Linked DNA regions of Homo sapiens. The protein of the gene in region 3 interacts with the protein of the main gene of each other region in a pairwise test. Each region holds a gene or a part of one and is shown on either strand. Other genes may lie near its edges.

Evidence for each region.
Region 1: the proteins of TIE1 (region 3) and PSG5 interact in binary tests that used the Homo sapiens proteins (3 or more experiments, as listed by UniProt).
Region 2: the proteins of TIE1 (region 3) and MTMR14 interact in a two-hybrid assay, tested with the Homo sapiens proteins (one study listed by BioGRID and IntAct).

What each region holds. Positions count from the first base shown.
Region 1 is NC_000019.10:43,169,433-43,176,544, forward strand, and holds part of PSG5 (pregnancy-specific beta-1-glycoprotein 5 precursor), read right to left. Parts: intron 6,717-7,112; coding exon 6,438-6,716; intron 6,038-6,437; coding exon 5,783-6,037; intron 2,124-5,782; exon of another isoform or gene 707-2,123; coding exon 663-706; 3' UTR 623-662; exon of another isoform or gene 573-622; intron 1-572.
Region 2 is NC_000003.12:9,694,454-9,701,565, reverse strand, and holds part of MTMR14 (phosphatidylinositol-3,5-bisphosphate 3-phosphatase MTMR14), read right to left. Parts: exon of another isoform or gene 6,041-7,112; intron 3,856-6,040; coding exon 3,700-3,855; exon of another isoform or gene 3,356-3,699; intron 3,231-3,355; exon of another isoform or gene 1,074-3,230; intron 1-1,073. UniProt on the Homo sapiens protein: Lipid phosphatase that specifically dephosphorylates the D-3 position of phosphatidylinositol 3-phosphate and phosphatidylinositol 3,5-bisphosphate, generating phosphatidylinositol and phosphatidylinositol 5-phosphate.
Region 3 is NC_000001.11:43,317,938-43,323,676, forward strand, and holds the end of TIE1 (tyrosine-protein kinase receptor Tie-1 isoform 1 precursor), read left to right. Parts: coding exon 1-135; intron 136-1,297; coding exon 1,298-1,411; intron 1,412-1,521; coding exon 1,522-1,592; intron 1,593-3,331; coding exon 3,332-3,372; intron 3,373-3,458; coding exon 3,459-3,555; intron 3,556-3,678; coding exon 3,679-3,778; intron 3,779-4,713; coding exon 4,714-4,785; 3' UTR 4,786-5,171; downstream 5,172-5,739. UniProt on the Homo sapiens protein: Transmembrane tyrosine-protein kinase that may modulate TEK/TIE2 activity and contribute to the regulation of angiogenesis.

The DNA.
Region 1 (7,112 bases), on a different chromosome or scaffold from region 3:
TTTTAGACATAGCATTGGAACTAAGAATTTTATGTCTATATGGGTGAAGGGGCAGGGATGTGTAGGAAGACAGTTCTAATTAGGATGAAGGAATTATACTAGGAAGTAGAGGTAAAGGAAGTGAGAAGGCTTACTAAATAGAAGAAATGTGAACTTATCAAATAGGCTAGAGTAGACCCCTGCAGATTCTTGATTAAGTGAATTAACTAGATTTTAGAAAGGTAATGAGGCAGTCATATGCAAGGAAGGTTTCAAAGTCTGGCCACAAGAAGTCAAGCAATACTTTGAGAAGTGGTTGAGCTTTATGGGAGTGTAGAGAATTACACTATTGAGAGATGTTAAAAATAATGAAGAGGGTTTCACCATGTGAAATTGTGTTTCTCATTTGAATCTGAGAAACAAATGAGCAGAGGCTGGAGATAATTATGTCTAAAAGACAGTGGGGTACAGGGAGCATAAAGGCCAGGGAGAAAGGGAACTGCAGGAATTAGTTCTGAGAAGCAGGAGTTTAGTGGAGGAAGGAGGAGATGCAGTCCCAGATACAAGCAAATAAGTCTTTTCCCTCTCCCAAGCATGGCAGTCAGCCCTGCAGGAACCAGGATAAGAGAAAAGGCCATCATACCTGCCAGTCTTCCTGAAATACAGAAATGACTTCACGGCTGCTATATTGGATTAAGGAGAGGAAGACGTCCTATTCCTGAAGGAGCTGTCATGGAAAGAAAAGTAAAGAAGGAATGAAGGTGATGTTATTTTACATGGGGGAGCCTCAGGAAGAGGCATGTAGCATGAGGTACTCTATAATTGTTTCTTCAAGTACTACATTATTCCTCTTGGGAAATTGATGGGAGATGATTATATTCTTGCAGTTTTTTTTTTCCCTCTCACCATGTTTCTAGGATGGTGATCAGTCCTCTGTCAAATCTCTACTGCACTCAGATATTTTGGAAGGCTTTCAGACATAAGAAAGGCTGATTGCTATTTTCTATGTCATTAGAACTTACCACCTTTTCACCTTTTCATGGTTGCATCTTTTTCTCAGTCTCTCTGTTGTGGCAGCCATGAATGAGACTCTGTCAGGTCTCCATGGCAGGGAGCTGATTGACAGAAGGCCCACGTCCGTGCATTTCACATTCATCACCTCCTTTGCACAGAAAGCTTCTTTCCCACAGGCTCCCAGGAAGGGCGTGAAAGCAAGCCTAGTTCTCTGAGGCTCTCTTTAACTCTAAAGGGTGACTGGTTGGAGGACTCCCCCTCAGCCTTGCAAAAACTCTTAGAACTGCATTGGTACCTAAAACTTCTTTCTCTTTCTTTTTCACAGGAATCAGCTCTGCATAGTGGTCTGTGGGTTCTCCCATACTGCCTTCATGTCTGCCCCACATTCCCTCACAGGTGTCCTCCCTGATAAATTATCTTGTATGTCTAATCCCATCTTGGGTGCATCTCAGTTGGTAAAAACTAACATATCAGGCTTGATTCTTTGCACTTAGCTTTTTTTCCTTCTCTCCCACAAGTAGTCAGTAACCATGTCCTAGTGTTTTATGTGTTACCTCTTTTTCCATATATATGGAAAAAGGTAGGTACTGTTGAGGGGCATTTCCTATGTGCCAGGCCCTGTGCTAAATACTTTACCTGTATCTCATTTAATCCACACAATAACCCTGTCAGGTAGAAATTATTTCCACTTTGCTGATGAAAAGACAGAAGCTTATCATGGTGTAAAAACTTTCCTGGTGTCATATGGCTAGTGACAGGTGGATCTGAAATTTGATTCTAGGACTATTTGACCTCAAGGCTAATGATGATGGTAGTAATATAGCAGCTGACATTGGCTCCTCTGTGTGGCATCTTGTTTCATTGATTGCATTAAACATTTAAAAGAATGGTATGAAGAAAGCACTCTCATTGCAATTTTCAGGTGAGGAATCAGAGGTTCAGAGAAGTTGAGTCTTGTGCAAGAAATTTATAACTGTAAACTCTTACATTAAAAAAGAAGAAAGATCTCAGGTCAACAACCTACTTTAATACTTCAGGATATGAAAGAAGAACAAACTAAACCCAAGCACAGTGAATGAGGGAAATAATAAGGATTAGAGTGGACATAAATAAAATGGAGAATGGAAAAAGAATAGAGGAAATTAATGAAACCAAAAGTTGATTCTTCAAAATAAAATCAACAAAATTGACAACCATTAACTAGATTGACTAAGAAAAAAAGAGAAAAGTTTAAAATTACTCAAATCAGAAATGAAAATGGACTCTGAGCATGGTGGGTCATGTTTTAATCCTAGCACTTTGGGAGGTCACAGCAGAAGGATTTCTTGAGACCAGGTGTTTGGACCAGCATGGGTAACCTGGGGAGATGCTGTCTCTACAAAAATATAAAAAACCAATTAACTGGGCATGTTGACATGAACCTGTAGTCATAGCATCTTGGGAGGCTGAAGAAGGAGAATTGCTTGAGCCCAGGAGGTTAAGGCTGCAGTGAGCCATAATCACACCACTGTATTCCATCCTGGACTGGTCTACATAGTGAGAGCCCGTCCCTCTCTTCAAAAAAAAAAAAAAAGAAAAAGAAAGAAAGAAAAATGAAGCGATTACTACCAATTCTAATAAAATAATGATTATGAAAGTACTATAAATAATTTTATGCAAATAAATTGGATAACCTAGATGAAATAGACAAACTCCTAGAAACACACAAAAATATGAATAGAACTATAATCAGTAATAAGATTGAATCAATAAAAGCATTTGATGAAATTCAATATTTTTTCATAATGAAAACATCCTAAGAATAGAAGGAAACCACCTCAACATAAAGGCAATATGTGAAAAACCCAATGCTAGCATCATACTCAACGGAGAAAGACTGAAAGCTTTCCCTGTATGAGCAGGAACAAGACAAGGATGCCTGCTTTTGACACTTTTATTCAACATAGTATTGAAAGGTCTAGTCAGAAAAATTAGGCAAGAATTGAAAAAAAGACATTCAAATTGGAAGGAAGGAGTAAAATTCTTTCTGTTTACAGATAACTTGAACTTATATGTAGAAAATCCTAAAGGTGGAACAAACCAATTAAAATTAATAAATTCAGTAATGTTGCACAATACAAAATCAACATTCAAACATCAGTTGTATTTCAATACACTAAACATGAACAATCTGAAGGGAAATTAAGAAAAATAATTTCAATTTATATTAACATCAAAAAGAATAAAATATTTAGGAATAAGTTTAACCAAAGAGGTGAAATAATTATACCTGAAATCTACAAAATATTGCTGAAAGAAATGAAAGAAGACATCAATAAATTGAAAGACATTTTGTGTTCATGAATTGGAAGACTCAATATTGTTAGGAGGACAGTGCTGCCCAAAGTGAGCTGCAGATTCAATAAAATTCCTGTCAGAATCTCAGTGACATTTTTGCAGAAAAAGACAAATCTGTCCTAAAATTTATATTGCATCTCATGACTCTAAATAGACACATAGCTTTGAAGAGGAAGAATGAAGCTGGAGGACTCACACTTCCTGATTTCAGCATTTACTACAAAGCCCTAGTAATCAATACAGTGTGGTACTGGCATAAAGGAGGACATAGAAATTAATGAAATATCATAGCCCAGAAAGAAATGCTTGCATATATGGCCAAATGATTTTCATGGAGTGTTCCAAGATCATTCAATGGGGAACGGACAGTGTTCTCACCAAATGATATTGGGAAAGCTGGATATCCAAGGGCAAGAGAGTGGAACCTTTACCTAACACCATGCATAAAAATTAACCCACAATAGATCAAAGATCTAAATGTAAGAGTAAAAACTACAGAACTCTTAGAAGAAAAGCTTCATGATACTGGATTTCACAATGATTTCTTGGTTGTAACAACAAAAGCATAGGCAACAAATAAAATGGATTAATTGGACTTCACAAAAATCAAAACCTTTTATATATCAAAGAACATTATCAAGAAAGTAAAAAGGCAACCTATGAAATGATAAAAATATTTGCAAATTATATGTGTGATAAGAAATTAATTTCCAGAATACATGAAAAGCTACAAGTCAACAACAGCAAACATCCAAAAACCCAATTAAAAAATGAACAAAGGATTAAAATGGAGTTTTCTCCAAGGAAGATATACAAATATCCAATAAGCCCATGCAAAGTTCCTCAGCATCACGAATACTTAGAGATATGCAAATCAAAACCACAATGTTACACCACCTCACACACTTTAGGATGGCTTTGATAAACAACAAAAATGACAGCAACACAAAACAACAGGTGTTTTCAAGTAGATGGAAAAATTGGAGCTCTAGTGCATTGCTGATGGGAATGGGAAATGTTATAGCCACTGTAAAAAGTGGTGTGGCTGTTTCTCAAAAAATTAAACAATAACTTACCATTTGATCCAGCAATTCCACTTCTGGACAAACTCCCCATAGAAATGAAAAAAAATTGAACAAATATTTGTACACTGATGTTCAGAGAAGCATTACTCACACTAGCGAAAAAATGGAAACAACTGAAAAGTCCATTGAAAGATAAGTGGGTAGGCAAATGAGGTGTATCTACAATTAAAATGTTATTCAACCTTAACAAGGAATAAAATTCCAATACATCGTGCAAAATGGATGAACCTTAAAGATATTATGCTAACTGAAATAAACCAGACACAAAAGGATAATTATCATATAATTCCATTTATAAAAGATAGTTAGAATAGCCAGTTACATAGAGACAGAATGTAGAATGGTGTGTGCTAAGGGTTATGGGGAGAAGGAGTGAGTTACTGTTTATTGGGTACAGAGGTTTAATATGGTAAGAGGAAAAAGTTCTGGAAATGGATAGTGTGATGGTTACACAACACTAAATTGCACACATAGAAATAGTTAATGGTAAGTCTTATATTAGATATATATAAAGTGTCTGGTAGTCTTACCCTCTCTATAATTACACACTTTTTGGCACTGCCCCTTTCCTGCCATGCAGAGCCCCAGGGGTGAATCTCTCTATTTCTCCAGCTCTGCATCAGTCACTATCCTCCGTGCTGTGTCCCACATGCTGTGCCCACAACCTCATACAACCGGTGACTTCAGAGCCAGGACGCAACGCAGGAGTCTTCCCTGAGGCTCCCTCTCTTCTTATTTCCCTGCAGCCTGGCCCGGGGGAGGCTTGGCTTCAACTGGCAGCTCGATTTAGCCAAATTCAGGACAGGCCACCAGGACTCTTTCTCCACACATGCTGGTCCCACCCCAGGTTGAGTGAGGCAGGCCCAGTCACCAGAGAAGCATGGAGCAGAGCAGGAAGCAGAGTCTGAGCTGCTCCTCCCTCACCCAAGGGGCTTCCTCGTCTCATTTGGGGGAAAAGTGTGAGCTTGTTTCAGAGCCTCAGATGTTCCTTGTAGCTCATGGAATAGGTACAAGGAAACAAAGACATGGCAGAAGGGGATGTGTTGGTGACATCGAGAAGCAACTTGATCTTGAGGACTCTCCTTCTCATCCCTCTGTGAAGCCTCCTCTACCACATAGGGCTCAGGGCTGATAAAGCCCCCTCCCTAACTTTCTTAGGCCAGACACAAGGTCAGCCATGAGAAAACAGAAAAACAAGGAGAAGAGAGTTTGTAGAGACAAATTGGAAGGGTTCAGGAGGAGAATTTGGGATTTGCTTGTGCCCATGGGACACAGGCTGGGAATAAAAATGTTTTCCTAACTCTTCTCTGAAAGCCAGGTAGACTCCACCTAAAACCCTATTGCCAAGGATGCTGGGATCCACTTACCAGAGACTTCGACTGTCATGGATTTGGAGCTTTCCTTGCCAGTAGCTGAGTTACGAACAGAGCAAGTATAGAGCCCTCTATGCTTTGTAGTAATTTGGGGGATAGAGAGCTTTTGTCCTGATTGCTGAAACTTCCCATTAATTGTCCAAAAATACTCTGCCGGTGGGTTAGATTCCGCGAAGCAGGACAAGTAGAGGTTTTCTCCTGAACGGTAATAGGTGAATGAAGGGTAAATGCTGGGGAGGTCTGGACCATCTGGAGCAAAGAGAATGAAGCCACAGGTGATGTCATCCAAGGGAAGGGGATGCTCCTGGTCTCTTAAAGGGACACAGTGACCCTCTGAGCCAAGACACACCCTCAAGTCCCAGCCGAACCCCCACTATATTCACTGAGCCAAAGCCTGAGGTATTCACCTGTTTCTCCCATCACAAGCTATTGACACAAAGTCTCCCATGACAAGAGCGCCCCCTCCCCTTATATTCCTGGTTAAGGCTGTGCCTACCTAGGTTTTCCAAGGGCAGGGAGTCATGGCCAGCTCAGATGTCCAGAAATAAAGGTGTCTATACTTGGACCGGAGAAAGACTGAGAGGACTGGCTTGTGGTCATTTAGATTTAAGCTGGTGTCCTGGCCCACAGAGGAACAAAAGATACTCACAGAGGACATTCAGGGTGACTGGGTCACTGCGCATGCCACCATCTCGGTCCCGTATTTCACATTCATAGGGTCCTGTTTCATTTCTCGTGACACTGGGTAGAATGAGGATCCTGTTTTCAATGGGTCGCTTTACCCTGGGACTGACCGGGAGGCTCTGACCATTTAGCCACCAAATGTAGGTGTAGTTCTCACTCTTAGGTTCACAGGTGAAGGCTAAGACATCCTTATTCTCCCTGGGTTTTGAGTTGTTGATGGTGATGTAGGGCTTGGGCAGCTTCACTGTGTGGATAACAGAGAGAAGATTGTCCTGTGTGGCACCTTTGATTCCTCCACAGGCATCCTTCAATCAGAGTTGGCATCTCCCACCTGTCAACCCACCAGAGTCCTTGAAAGCCAGTAGCTGATGCATGTGTCACAAGATAGATGCATGATGATCTAAGGGCTCAAAGACTGTGAGGCCACCTGCTCTGTTTTAGGGAAGCACAGACTTTCTCAAGTGTCAATTGAGCAGCAGTGTTGGGTCATGAACAGACACATCAGTGGGAGTCACAGCCCCTGGTACCCCTCCCAGTCCCTCCATAATCAGTTGACTGGCTGGCTCACCCTGGGTTCCTTACCTGGAATGTGCAACTGCTGGGCCCCTTCCAAATTCCATCCTACTTTGTCCCCCTATAT
Region 2 (7,112 bases), on a different chromosome or scaffold from region 3:
GCAGGAGCTTTTACTGGGACACTAACCTTTTTTTTTTTTTTCTTGAGACAAGGTCTCACTCTATTGCCCAGGCTGGAATGCAGTGACACAATCAGCGCTCACTGTAGCCTCAAGCCATCCTCCCACCTCAGCCCCTCAAGTAGCTGGGACTACAGGCACATGCCACCATGATAGGGTTTTACCATGTTGCCCAGGCTGGTCTCAAACTCCTGGACTCAACTGATCCGCCTGCCTTGGCGTCCCACAGTACTGGGATTACAGGCGTGAGCAACTGTGCCTGGCCTGACCTGACCTGTTGTGAAAATAACTATCTTTGCGATCACTGGGAAGGAGGGTAGCTAAGCAGGAGGGAATTTGCCCCAGCAGCTCTCTGCTTCCACTCCTCAGGAAGAGCAAGCTGAGGCATGAAGTCTTATACCTAACAGTAAGGAGGCCCCTGAAATCTGGCAGCACGCTGCAGCTGTTGAAAGTCCTCAGCCTTGGCTGTAATCCCAGCACTTTGGGAGGCCGAGGCAGGTCAGGAGTTCGAGACTAGCTTGGCCAACATGGCAAAACCCTGTCTCTACTGAAAATATAAAAATTCACTGGACATGGTGGCATATGCCTGTAATCCCAGCTACTTGGGAGGCTGAAGGCAGGAGAATCACTTGATCCCGGGAGGCAGAGGTCACAGTGAGCCAGACTGCACCACTGCACTCCAGCCTGGGCAACAGAGTGAGACTGTGTCTAAAAAAAAAAAAAAAAGAAAAGAAAAAAAAGGCCCCAGCCTTGAGGCCTAGACATGACGCATCTTAGGAGGAAGCTATTGCCCTGGAAGAACCCACTGTCTGCTGGGTTGAAGCCAGGGTTCCCCACTGGAAACCTCTAGGGCTTTAGCTACACCTTCAGTCACTGTGGTTTCCAGGTAAACAGCTGAAAGGGTGCTGGCTTTTCCAGAAAGATCTGTGTTCTGATTCTATTCCCCATTCCTCTCTTGGCCTCTGTAGGCTCTGATCACAGATGAAAGCCCCTCTTCTTTCCTTACCCTGAAATTACAAGTCAAGAAGGGAAACAAGTGCGCACAACTCAGGCTTATCAAAGCATGACTCCACATGAGGCTGTGTGACATCCCCAAGGGCCTTTAATAGAAGAGGCCCATGGACTCTGGACTCAAAGTTCAGGTACTCACATAGTGTTCCCCCAATGGGTCCCTGGAGGGCCCTCTCTAGGGGTCACAGACTTACATGAGAAGAGCCCTCACATTCCCATACACCTAAATACTAAGACCATCCATGCCTACTAATCTTGCTCCAAATCTGCCCTCAAGAAACCAATCCCTGGACAGTCCCTCCCTGGAAATCTGTCAGAGGCAGCTGAAGTGAACCCAATCCCAACGGCTCAATGACTTGTACCCAGGGCTTGTGGGAGCAGAGGGATGTCTGAGGATAAATGACAGTCCTGAGGTAAGTATGGGGGGAGATAGACAGGACTCTAGGGAAAGCAGATCGGTGGGAGTGAAATGTGAGAGATGGAAGCAGTAGGCTCTGGGGCAAAGAAAAGTCAAATCACTCCTGCAGCAGCACTAAGAACATGGAGCTGAGACTGGATTCCTGTACTACCATCAACAATCCTGAAGTCTCTCCTGGCAACTGGGGAAGAAGCATGGCCTGAGATCTTTTTACTTTCTAATTTCACACAGGCCAAAGGCCATGCATGCTTGCCTTAGCTTCTCCTTATAGCATACGAGGGAGAAACAGACCAAGAGTTTACACTCACAGGGAACATCCAAAGATCCATACATGAGCATTCTCACTGCCCTGCCCCACCCCCCTGACATGGCTGCCCATTTCTGAGAGGTGAAAGGGACAGAGACCACCACCTACTGAGAGATGAGAAAAGAGGAGAGGTTATGTGACCCATTTAAGGACACACACCAGGCAAGGGAGGTACTACAGTGCCATTCCTTCTTGAGAGATGAGCTAACAGGCTCAGAAAAGGCAAGGCTGACACTTGAAGATACAGCTGGTGAATAGAGCAGCTAGGATTTGGCCTTAAGTTTTTCTGATAACAAAGCCCAAGTGCTGAACCCACATGCTGCACGGCTTCACAGGAATCAACTCTGACCACATCCCACAGTCTTGCAGGCCTTCAGATCATACGGAATCCAGCCCTCCTCTGAGAACCTCCCAGAACTAAAGGCTTGGCTAGCAGCTTAGAGTGCTGCCTGGGGCCTAAATTGTAGGTTCTAGGGTGGGTGATCTGGGGCTGGAGTTGCCTGTTTCAGTGGCTAACCCCAGGTAAGTGAGGAGTGCTATCAAGCAGGGATATCTGTGCTTCCTTCAGAGATGGCTCTTGGGCAAATGGGGCTGGAGTAGGAAGTCTTTACAGAAAGGTGCAATTTTTTTTTTTTTTTTTTGAGAGAGTTTCGCTCTTGTTGCCCAGGCTGGAGTGCAATGGCATGATCTCGACTCACGGCAACCTCCGCTTCCCAGGTTCAAACGATTCTCCTGCCTCAGCCTCCCGAGTAGCTGGGATTACTAATAGGCATTCACCACCTCGCCCAGCTAATTTTGTATTTTTAGTAGAGACGGGGTTTCTCCATGTTGGTCAGGTTGGTCTCGAACTCCCAACCTTAGGTGATCCGCCCGCCTCGGCCTCCCTAAGTGCTGGGACTACAGGCGTGAGCCACCATGCCCGGCCTGCAATTTTTTTTTTTTTAAGCCTTCGAACATCTAAGATCTTGTTTCTAGCCTAGGGGCTGGCTGCAGAGGAGGCTGTGCCAGGCACAGTGACCTCAGAAGCTCTTTGATGACTTCACAGCTGCAGAGCCAGGACCTGTGCCATCCTGGAATTTCAAGGTCTGACTGGCTCCTGACTGCCCTCAGCTAGGATCCAGGGCCCCCTTTCCCTTCCCAACTCCCCAAGGCACCCTGCCTCCCACCTGCCAACAGGGGTGGGGGGATGAGCTGGATTGCGGTGCTGGTGGTAAGGCCCCAGCATGTGCCATTCATCCAGCCCATGGTATGGAAGGCTTGCTGAGAGGCCCTCAGGCACCACAGCTGAGGAGCAGGGCTTGCTCCCCTGGCCACCAGAGGCTTTCTCCTGCCTGACATCCATGAAGCGGCAGAACAGGCCAGGGGCAGGTGGTTTCCCCAGAGGCAGCTGCTCCAGTCAGGTGGACACACTGTTAAGGGCTGGAAACTCAGGGTTTTGTAGGTGTGGGATCTAGAATCCCCATCCAATTCTTATTCCTGCCCAGAGGCAAAAACAGAAGACAAGGCGGGTAGAGACAGCAAGTAACCCTAGGTTCTGCTCAGGAGCAAAGCTTCGGGCTAACCCAGCACCACTCTGGCTCTGGCCTCCACCATACACCTACCTTCACTATCCCACTGTTCTGCCTTCAAACGATTCTCATGTCAGGCAAAGGCTTATACAGAAATAGAATCTTCTATAGTTACAGTCCAGCAGCTTTCCCTTTGGGTGCACCTGAGACACCAGTGGATGGGTTTTAGAGGCTGCAGAGTGAACACACAAACCAGTGCACTTCCTGACCAGCCACAGGCCTCCTTCATACCTCGGGTCCAGCAGCTGAGAGAGGGGAGGGCAGGAGGCCAGGCCAGCTCCTGAGCGCCAGCCTCATTCCTACCCAGCACTCCTGACTGCTCACCAGCTTTTCCCATGGGCAGGGGAGCATCCTGCCTTCTCAAGCAAGACACTTACAGACAACTGTTAGGGAGCTCATCCGGGAAGCTGAAAGGGAGAGAGGAGTCTGTGTGCAGGACAGCCCGCTCCTGAATACTGCCACAGCCCGTTACCATCTGCCAGCTGCCATAGTCTGTGGAGAGAGAGGATCCGGGCAGGGGATGGTCCACTGATCTGGGGCAGAGAGGAGAGAGAGGGGAGAGGATGCAGTCAGTCATATGCCTGACACAGGCTCTGGAGGGGGCTAGGGGACTAGCGCAGCCCTGGCTGCTAGGTTCTGTTGTCAATCACTGTCTCCAAAAGTCTAAAAAAAAAAGCTGGACAAGTAGTGACCGAGAAAAAAGAATAGATCACCAGGTAAGCTCAGCTGTGAGGACAGTATTTTGTGCAGACTTACTGTGGAAGCAAAAAATGAGAACAAAGCATGGCAGTAAGAGTGAATCGGAGCCACAGCCTGGGGCCAGGGCATGCCTGCGCTGGGAGTGAACACGGCAAGGACAATCTCAACAGCACCAAAGGAAGGCAGCAAGGCTAGCACCCAAATGAAGGTGACCCAGCAGCCAGCCGGGTCACCCATACTTGCTGGCATGCAGATTTGCAGGGTGGGCAACACAGAACCCAGGAGTCCCATCAGAAGAGACAGTACGGGCCTCTTGGGGATTGTGGAGGGTATGACCTAGACTCAAGAGTGATGGAATGGGAGCCCTGAGGTCCCCCCTTTCTCTGCAGTGCCTTCCAGGTGCCATAGTTTGTATTCAGAAGCATCAGCCCAGCAGACTCAGTGGCTATGCCCAGAGGGAAGGGATGAATCAGGCAGGCAGCCTGACAGCTTCCTCAGGCCTTCTTCAGATGGAGGTTTTGGGGGTGGGAGGAAGAAGGTTGTGCTGGGAATCTACCGCTTCCACCTCCTCCCCACTCACAGCCAACCCCCCTCTTCTGTCCTGGGCAGTAGTCCAGCCAGTGTGGGTCGGGGAGGCAATAGGGAGACATCAAACAAGGCCCTTCCACCTGCTACCCCAGGTCCCAGTCCCCAGGACATCATCTTTGATGCTTGACCCTTTATTCTTTCATCCAAAAACAGCAGGAGGTACTCCAGTAGGGATCCAGAAACAGGAATGAAGAGCAGGGATTGGGGGTGGAGAAAAATGTTCACTGCCCTTGGCTCCCCCAGCTGGCTGATGTCAAGGGCTCCTAGTCTGAGGTGACAGCCCGACTGGTCACCGTGCTAGTCTTATCCCCAAGCAGCTGCCACTGGAGTGCAGCCAGCCAGGCACTGCAACTCTGGCAATCCTTAACCATCCCCATCTGTAAGACAGGTGAAGACACCTGCTTGAGGTATCACAGCTAGACAGTGTGAGAAGAGGTTTCTGTTTTTGTTTTTCCCTGCTCTTGTCGCCCAGGCTGGAGTGCAGTGGCGTGATCTCAGCTCACTGCAACCTCTGCCTCCTGGGTTCAAGCAATTCTCCTCAGCCTCCCAACTGTAATCCCAAGTAGCTGGGATTACAGACGCCCGCCACCATGCCCGGCTAATTTTTTTGTGTCTATTTTTAGTAGAGATAGGGTTTCACCATGTTGGCCAGGCTGGTCTTGAACTCCTGATCTCTGGTGATCCGCCTGCCTCAGCCTCCCAAAGTGCTGGGATTACAGGCGTGAGCCAGTGCGCCCGGCTGAGAAGAGATTTTTAAAACCAAGAATGATTACACATTTGTCCTGAAACAGAACCACCTTGGGACCAGGGAAAACAGATGGTTTTCTATGTTAAGGCTGCCATAAATCGGAACCCCCTACAACATACAGACTTGTCACATTCATCATTCCTGCTAAACTCTAGAAGGTGCGTGATGGCAGCATTAGGGATGAGAACGGGATATGGTCTGTCACCTGACGGAAGCCCCTAGGGCCCGACAGAGCAGGGCTTCCTTGTTTCTAGATGGAGAAACTTGGGCTCAGGCAGTCTGTAAATCAAAGAGACAGCTCCCCAGGAGCAGCCTGCCCTGTGCCCCCTCCAGGTCACACCAGGCCTTCAGCCGGCACAACCCTGAGATGCATCCTAGCTCCACAAATCTCGTCTATTGTTCAAGCTGCAGGGTAGAATCTTTTCCAGTTCTAGCAGCTTGTGGGAAAACAACAGCTAAAAACCAGAATGTTGAGGGAATGGAAGGGATGCTGACTAGGTTGAGGCACAGCTGGGGCTGGGAGCATGGGGAAGTTTCTCAGGCCCCAAAACCACTCCCCAAGAGCCAAAGAGTAACACTGGCAAGGGAAACATGACCAATGGGATGGAGTTACTGACTGGCTCCCCTCAAGGATTCCAGGTCCCCTGGGCTTGTCACTTCCCTTTACTTCCCCCATGTCTCAGTAGGTAACACCGGCCAAGAACCGCACTTGCAGCAGCTGTCGGATGGATTAGGCAGCACAGACAGCAGCAGGGTGTGTGATCCCAGGGGACAGAAGCATCTCTCAGCAAGCAGCCATCTTCTGCAGACTCTGGGATTTTTCAAGAGTGAGCACACTGGCTACAAAGGAGTCTTCCTACGTGAGGCCTTTGTCAAAGGAAGGGCTACAAAGTGACCATTCAGCTCCTGGGGTTGAGAGCAAAGGGCCATGCTAAGCAGGAAGGTGTTCACAAATACCACCATGGATTAGCTGGCTGCAGGGGACACCTACAGTGCATCATGTCACCGGGAGTAAGGACCTGTGCCCACATACTGAGAAGGGAGGAAAAGCCTTCCAGTCAGTCTAAGAACACAGGTAACTTAACCAGCTTCAACAAGAGCCCAAAGTCTTTTGCCCTGAGCAGCAAACAGAGGGATCCAAGCTCCACCCCCTCTGCTCTCCCACTACAGGACTGGAGAGAACATGGGACCAAGCAACCCTCAAACTGGATGGTGGCGGAGCTGAACAACGCTTCAGAGGTCACCTGTCCACATCCCAGCGGCTCAGACCTCTGCCTAGGAGGGTGGGAGCTCAGCAACATTTCACTTCCTTAGTTGGATGCGGCTCAGGGCCCTCTTCACAGCACCCAGAGCTGCAGTTCCTACCGGCTCCCAACTCCCCCGATGCCCTGCTGATGGCCAACTCAGAGCAGGTGTCTTTTAGCTAGTCCTTTCTGGAAGGGGGTACAAGAATACTCACACAAACCGAGCTGGCTCAACCCAGGCAAGAATACACAGGTCGGGATGGAGGCCTGGCCTTTTACGCAGCTGCCTAGTGCCATGACAGAGCCTACAGGCTCTCGGACAAATGACTAAGGCCAAGTCCTTAACCACAGCTACAGTTTACTGAGCATTCGTGAAAAGGTATCTACTATGAGTATTTACTCCATCCATCCCAGTCCATCCCAGTCCATCCCAATCCATCCATCCATCCATCCATCCATCCAATCTATCTATCTAATCTATCTTTTGTATTGGCAAGGTCTCACTATGGTG
Region 3 (5,739 bases):
CGGAAAAGCCGGGTCCTAGAGACTGACCCAGCTTTTGCTCGAGAGCATGGGACAGCCTCTACCCTTAGCTCCCGGCAGCTGCTGCGTTTCGCCAGTGATGCGGCCAATGGCATGCAGTACCTGAGTGAGAAGCAGGTGTGTGTGAGTGGGGGCGGGTGGAGGCCAGAGGGGGAAGCCACTGGGCTGGTGTCAGTGGAAGAAGTCAGCCGGCCCTGATTGTATCTGGGGATTGAGGTTCCTGGCCCAAGTGTGTGGGTGGGTGCAAGCACAGCGAGGAGGCAGGGCCAAGGGGCAGGTCTGGAGGAGGTGGGGACTTCCAGTATGGAGGGTGCGGGTGTTGAGTGAGCAGGTCTAGATGCTAGCCTGGAACTCAGGAGAGAGGCCCAGGCTGGAGACAGCATCTGTGTGTGAGCTGTCACCCCACAGATGGTGCCTAATGGCAATGGGCCTGGTGCGATCTGCCGGAGAGGGGGAAGGGCAGAGATCCAAGCCCAAGTCAACTCAGGCCTGAATGAGAGGACAGGGGGATGACTGTCCAGGGGAGTGTGAGTCTGAGGGAAGGCATTTTATCTTTTTTTTTTTTTGAGACTGAGTCTCACTTTTTTGCCCAGGCTGGAGTGCAGTGGTGCGATTTCAGCTCACTACAACCTCTGCCTCCTGGGTTCAAGCAATTCTCCTGCCTCAGCCTCCTGAGTAGCTGGGATTACAGGCATGTACCACCACACCCAGCTAATTTTTGTATTTTTAGTAGAGACGAGGTTTCACCATGCTGGCCAGGCTGGTCTCGAACTCCTGTCCTCGAGTGATCCACCCGCCTCAGCCTCCCAAAGTGCTGGGATTACAGGCATGAGCCACTGCACCTGGCCAGCATTTTAAAGATAGTAAAGTTTTGAGTATGTTTGAAAGCAGAGGGGCAGGGGAAGGGGCCAGTGCAGAGGGAGGGGCTGGTGGAGAGAGGTCTCTGGGGAAGCTGGAGGGCTAAGGGAGAGAAACTGGAACCCAGGGGATGGGAAGAGGGAGGGGGAGAAGCATGGAAAGAGGAGAAGGTGCAGTATGGCCACCACTGTCTCAGGAAAAGGGATCCAGCCTGAACTTGGTCAGGGCCCAGGAACGAGCGGGTGAGAGCCAACACTGATCTTTCTCAGATATGAGTCAGCTGACGAGATTGCAGCCAGGAGGGTAGGAGTATGGGGTATTGAAGGTAACAAGGGTACCCACGAAGACTGACTCCTTACTGGCCTGACTGTCCTGGGCTCCCTCATCCCCAGTCTCTCCTGACTTCTGACCCTGCCTACAGTTCATCCACAGGGACCTGGCTGCCCGGAATGTGCTGGTCGGAGAGAACCTAGCCTCCAAGATTGCAGACTTCGGCCTTTCTCGGGGAGAGGAGGTTTATGTGAAGAAGACGATGGTGAGTCTCATTCAACCCTCACCCTTAGGGCTTGTGCCTGGCCCTGCCCCACAGGAGCCTCAAACAGGCCCTTCCTCCACACTCAGCCCCTCAAACCCATTCTCTCCTAGGGGCGTCTCCCTGTGCGCTGGATGGCCATTGAGTCCCTGAACTACAGTGTCTATACCACCAAGAGTGATGTGTGAGTGTGAGATGAGAGGGCACAGGAGGGCTTGGCCCCCAAGAATCACCCAGGCCTGACCTAGACATATCTCAGAAATGTCATAGGTGGTCTAAGGCATGACCTGGGCTGTGTTCCAGGTGTGACACAGGTGTGTCTTGGGTATAAAGTACCTAGCCAAGGTGGGGCTTGCTGGAAGGAGTCTTGGAAGGTGTTTCAGGAATAGGACTGGGGTAAAGGTAGTTTCGGATTATGTTTGTGTAAGTGACGGGGGATGCCTTGGAGAGGTTTGGGAATGCTGGCGGATGCTTCCTGAGGTAGATGGAGAGGCCACTCAGGAATTGCTCTCATCTTCCTCCCTGAAGGGCAAGGTCATGCCCACCTGAGGATCTTACCAGAGCATGACCCCCAAGACTCCCTCTCTGTGCCCCCTCCCCTGCAGACAGCCCTCTTGGCACACTCCTCCTGTCTCTCCAGGGATGTCCATCTTGATCTGAACCTACCCCTTGCCCCAAGCCCTTTGGCCTTGCCTGCATGGCTCACTGCTTACCACACTGATCACTCCTCTGACCACTACATGCCTACTTCGTGCTTCTGCCCCAACACTCCCTTGATTCCCTCCACCCCCTTTGAACTCTCTCCCCTGGTCTCAGGGCTGATGCACACTACACAGAGGCTGTTAAAGTGTGAGATGCAGTCAAGAGTAAGAGCTTTGGAGCCTGAGTTGGAACGCTTGCTCTGCCACTAACTAGCTGTATGGCCTTGGGCAATCTAGCTAACCTCTCAGTGCCTCAGTGTCTTCATCTGTAAAATGGCAAGACTAATAGAACCTGTATCATAGGGTTGGTGTGAGGGTTAAATGAATTAACATGTCTGTTAAATGACCAGGGCCTGGACCACGGTAAGTGCTCAATAAAAATGTTAGCTCGGCTGGCTGTGGTGGCCCACATGTGTAATCCCAGCACTTTGGGAGGCCAGGCAGGCAAATCACTGGAGACCAGGAGTTTGAGACCAGCCTGGGCAAGATGGCAAGACCCTGTCTCTACTAAAAATACAAAACATGGCCGGGCGTGGTGGCTCACGCCTGTAATCCCAGCACTTTGGGAGGCCAAGGCGGGCAGATCACAAGGTCAGGAGATCGAGACCATCCTGGCTGACACAGTGAAACCCCATCTCTACTAAAAATACAAAAAGAAATTAGCCGGGCATGGTGGCGGGCACCTGTAGTCCCAGCTACTTGGGAGGCTGAGGCAGGAGAATGGCGTGAACCCAGGAGGCAGAGCTTGCAGTGAGCCGAGATCTCGCCACTGCACTCCAGCCTGGGCGACAGAGCGAGACTCTGTCTCAAAAAATAAATAAATAAATAAATAAATAAATAAATAAAAATACAAAACATTAGCTGAGCATGGTGGCACACACCAGCTACAAGGGAGACTGAGGTGGGAGGACCACCTGATCCTGGGAGGTTGAGGCTGCAGTAAGCCACTGCACTCCAGCCTGGGTGACAGAGTGAGACCCTGTCTCAAAAAAAAAAAAAAAAAAAAAACAAAACAAAAGAGCTCTAATTGTGCTGAGCCCAGGGATGGGGGCAGTATGAAGGAGCTTCATTGGCGCAGAGACAACAGCTGGCCAAGGCCAGATACTTACAGAGTAGACACATACAGCGGGGCTGGGAGGCACTGCACATCTTGGGCAGGTAGAAGCTAAACTGCTAGGGACCAGGGCCTAGAAGGTAACTAAGTGCATCCTTCTTATTTCAGCTGGTCCTTTGGAGTCCTTCTTTGGGAGATAGTGAGCCTTGGTGAGTTCCTGATCCCCGTCCCCCAGAGTGCCCCACCTTACCCCACGTGGAGCCCTGGACCGAGAGCACTTTGTCCCCTCCTGCAGGAGGTACACCCTACTGTGGCATGACCTGTGCCGAGCTCTATGAAAAGCTGCCCCAGGGCTACCGCATGGAGCAGCCTCGAAACTGTGACGATGAAGTGTGAGTCACCCCATCCTTGAGCTCCATGATCCTATCTCTGTGATGAGTGACCTCAGCTTTGATCCCTGTGACCCCATCACCCCAGCTGGCCTGACTCCTCATCTCAGCAATGCCCCCTCGCAGGTACGAGCTGATGCGTCAGTGCTGGCGGGACCGTCCCTATGAGCGACCCCCCTTTGCCCAGATTGCGCTACAGCTAGGCCGCATGCTGGAAGCCAGGAAGGTGAGGAGACTGGGGCTGAGGTGGCGGGCTGGGCTCACAGAGTGCTCCAGAGTGCCCTCTCAGAGGTGCCATGACCCCTGTCCCAACCACACTGCCTGCCCAACCTCCCTCAGTGGGGGCTGTCACCACGGCTAGGCTGGGCCCCAGGATGCAGCCTGCCTTTCCAGCCCTCACTGGTTTAGACACCAGGCCCTTCCAAAACTCTTCCAAGGCCACTGCTTAGCCCCAACAGCAAATCCCTACCTTAAGCCCCAAGTCCCAGACTGCTTGCCTGTCCTCTGCTGAGGCCATCAGCCTGTCCTCATCTGGGACACCTCTCCCCACCTGCCAGAGCCAGAGCAGAGTGCATGAATAGTCACTAACCAGATGGATGGATGGGTGAATGAGTGATACAGTAACCGTATGAATGAATGAATGGAATTAGTGGATAGATGATACAATAATCATATGAACATGTAATTCAATAACTCAATCTACTAACCATGTGAATAAGTGAATTATCAAATAAATATAATGAAAAATATATCAAAATTAGTAAATATGAAGAGTTCTTCAAGTAAATTAATGATTAAATAACCATCTTAAGAATGAAGGAATGATCAAATAACCATATAAATGGATGAGTCGTCTAAAATGGCTTTTGAACAGATAAGTTACTGAATGAATGAACGCATAAGCCAAGAATTCATTGAAAGAGTGCATGTAAAAACCCTCCTCTAACAATGGCATTGAGAGCCTCTCACCTGAGGCCCCAACTGTGGCCTGATGCCTTCACTGCCCTGGGCTGGTAAAGGCCACTCTTGGCCATGGGGCCATCTTAGGTCTCCAGAACAAATCAGTGTCAGTTCAAATGCCCCCACCACATGGAAGTCCAGGAGCTTGAGGCCAGATGCACCCCCATTCCTGGCCCCCACTAAAGCTTGCTCTGCCCCCAGGCCTATGTGAACATGTCGCTGTTTGAGAACTTCACTTACGCGGGCATTGATGCCACAGCTGAGGAGGCCTGAGCTGCCATCCAGCCAGAACGTGGCTCTGCTGGCCGGAGCAAACTCTGCTGTCTAACCTGTGACCAGTCTGACCCTTACAGCCTCTGACTTAAGCTGCCTCAAGGAATTTTTTTAACTTAAGGGAGAAAAAAAGGGATCTGGGGATGGGGTGGGCTTAGGGGAACTGGGTTCCCATGCTTTGTAGGTGTCTCATAGCTATCCTGGGCATCCTTCTTTCTAGTTCAGCTGCCCCACAGGTGTGTTTCCCATCCCACTGCTCCCCCAACACAAACCCCCACTCCAGCTCCTTCGCTTAAGCCAGCACTCACACCACTAACATGCCCTGTTCAGCTACTCCCACTCCCGGCCTGTCATTCAGAAAAAAATAAATGTTCTAATAAGCTCCATTCAATGTCTACCTTTTACTGCTGGTCAATCTTGGGGTGAGGGGCGTAGTTAAACCCAAGAGACAGAAACTGGCCGGGCGTGGTGGCTCACTCCTGTAATCCCAGCACTTTGGGAGGCCGAGGCGGGTGGATCACGAGGTCAGGAGCTTGAGACCATCCTGGCGAACATGGTGAAACCCCGTCTCTACTAAAAATGCAAAAAATTAGCTGGAAGTGGTGGCGGGCACCTGTAGTCCCAGCTACTCGGGAGGCTGAGGCAGGAGAATGGCCTGAACCTGGGAGGCGGAGCTTGCAGTGAGCCAAGATCGCACCACTGCACTCCAGCCTGGGCGACAGAGCGAGACTCCGTCTCAAAAAAAAAGAGACAGAAACTGGGCTTTCTAGGAAAAGAAACACTGTCTGAGGCCTCAGCCCTCTGTTGAGGTTGCCTGTCCAGGATAGGAGGTGCTCTGGAAGACTCATTTTACACAAACACCACCAGCCCCTACCTCTGTCCTGATTAGAAGGCCAGTTTTCCCCTGTTCCCTTCCCTGCTCTCCAGCTTCCATCACTAACGTGTCTCCCTGTG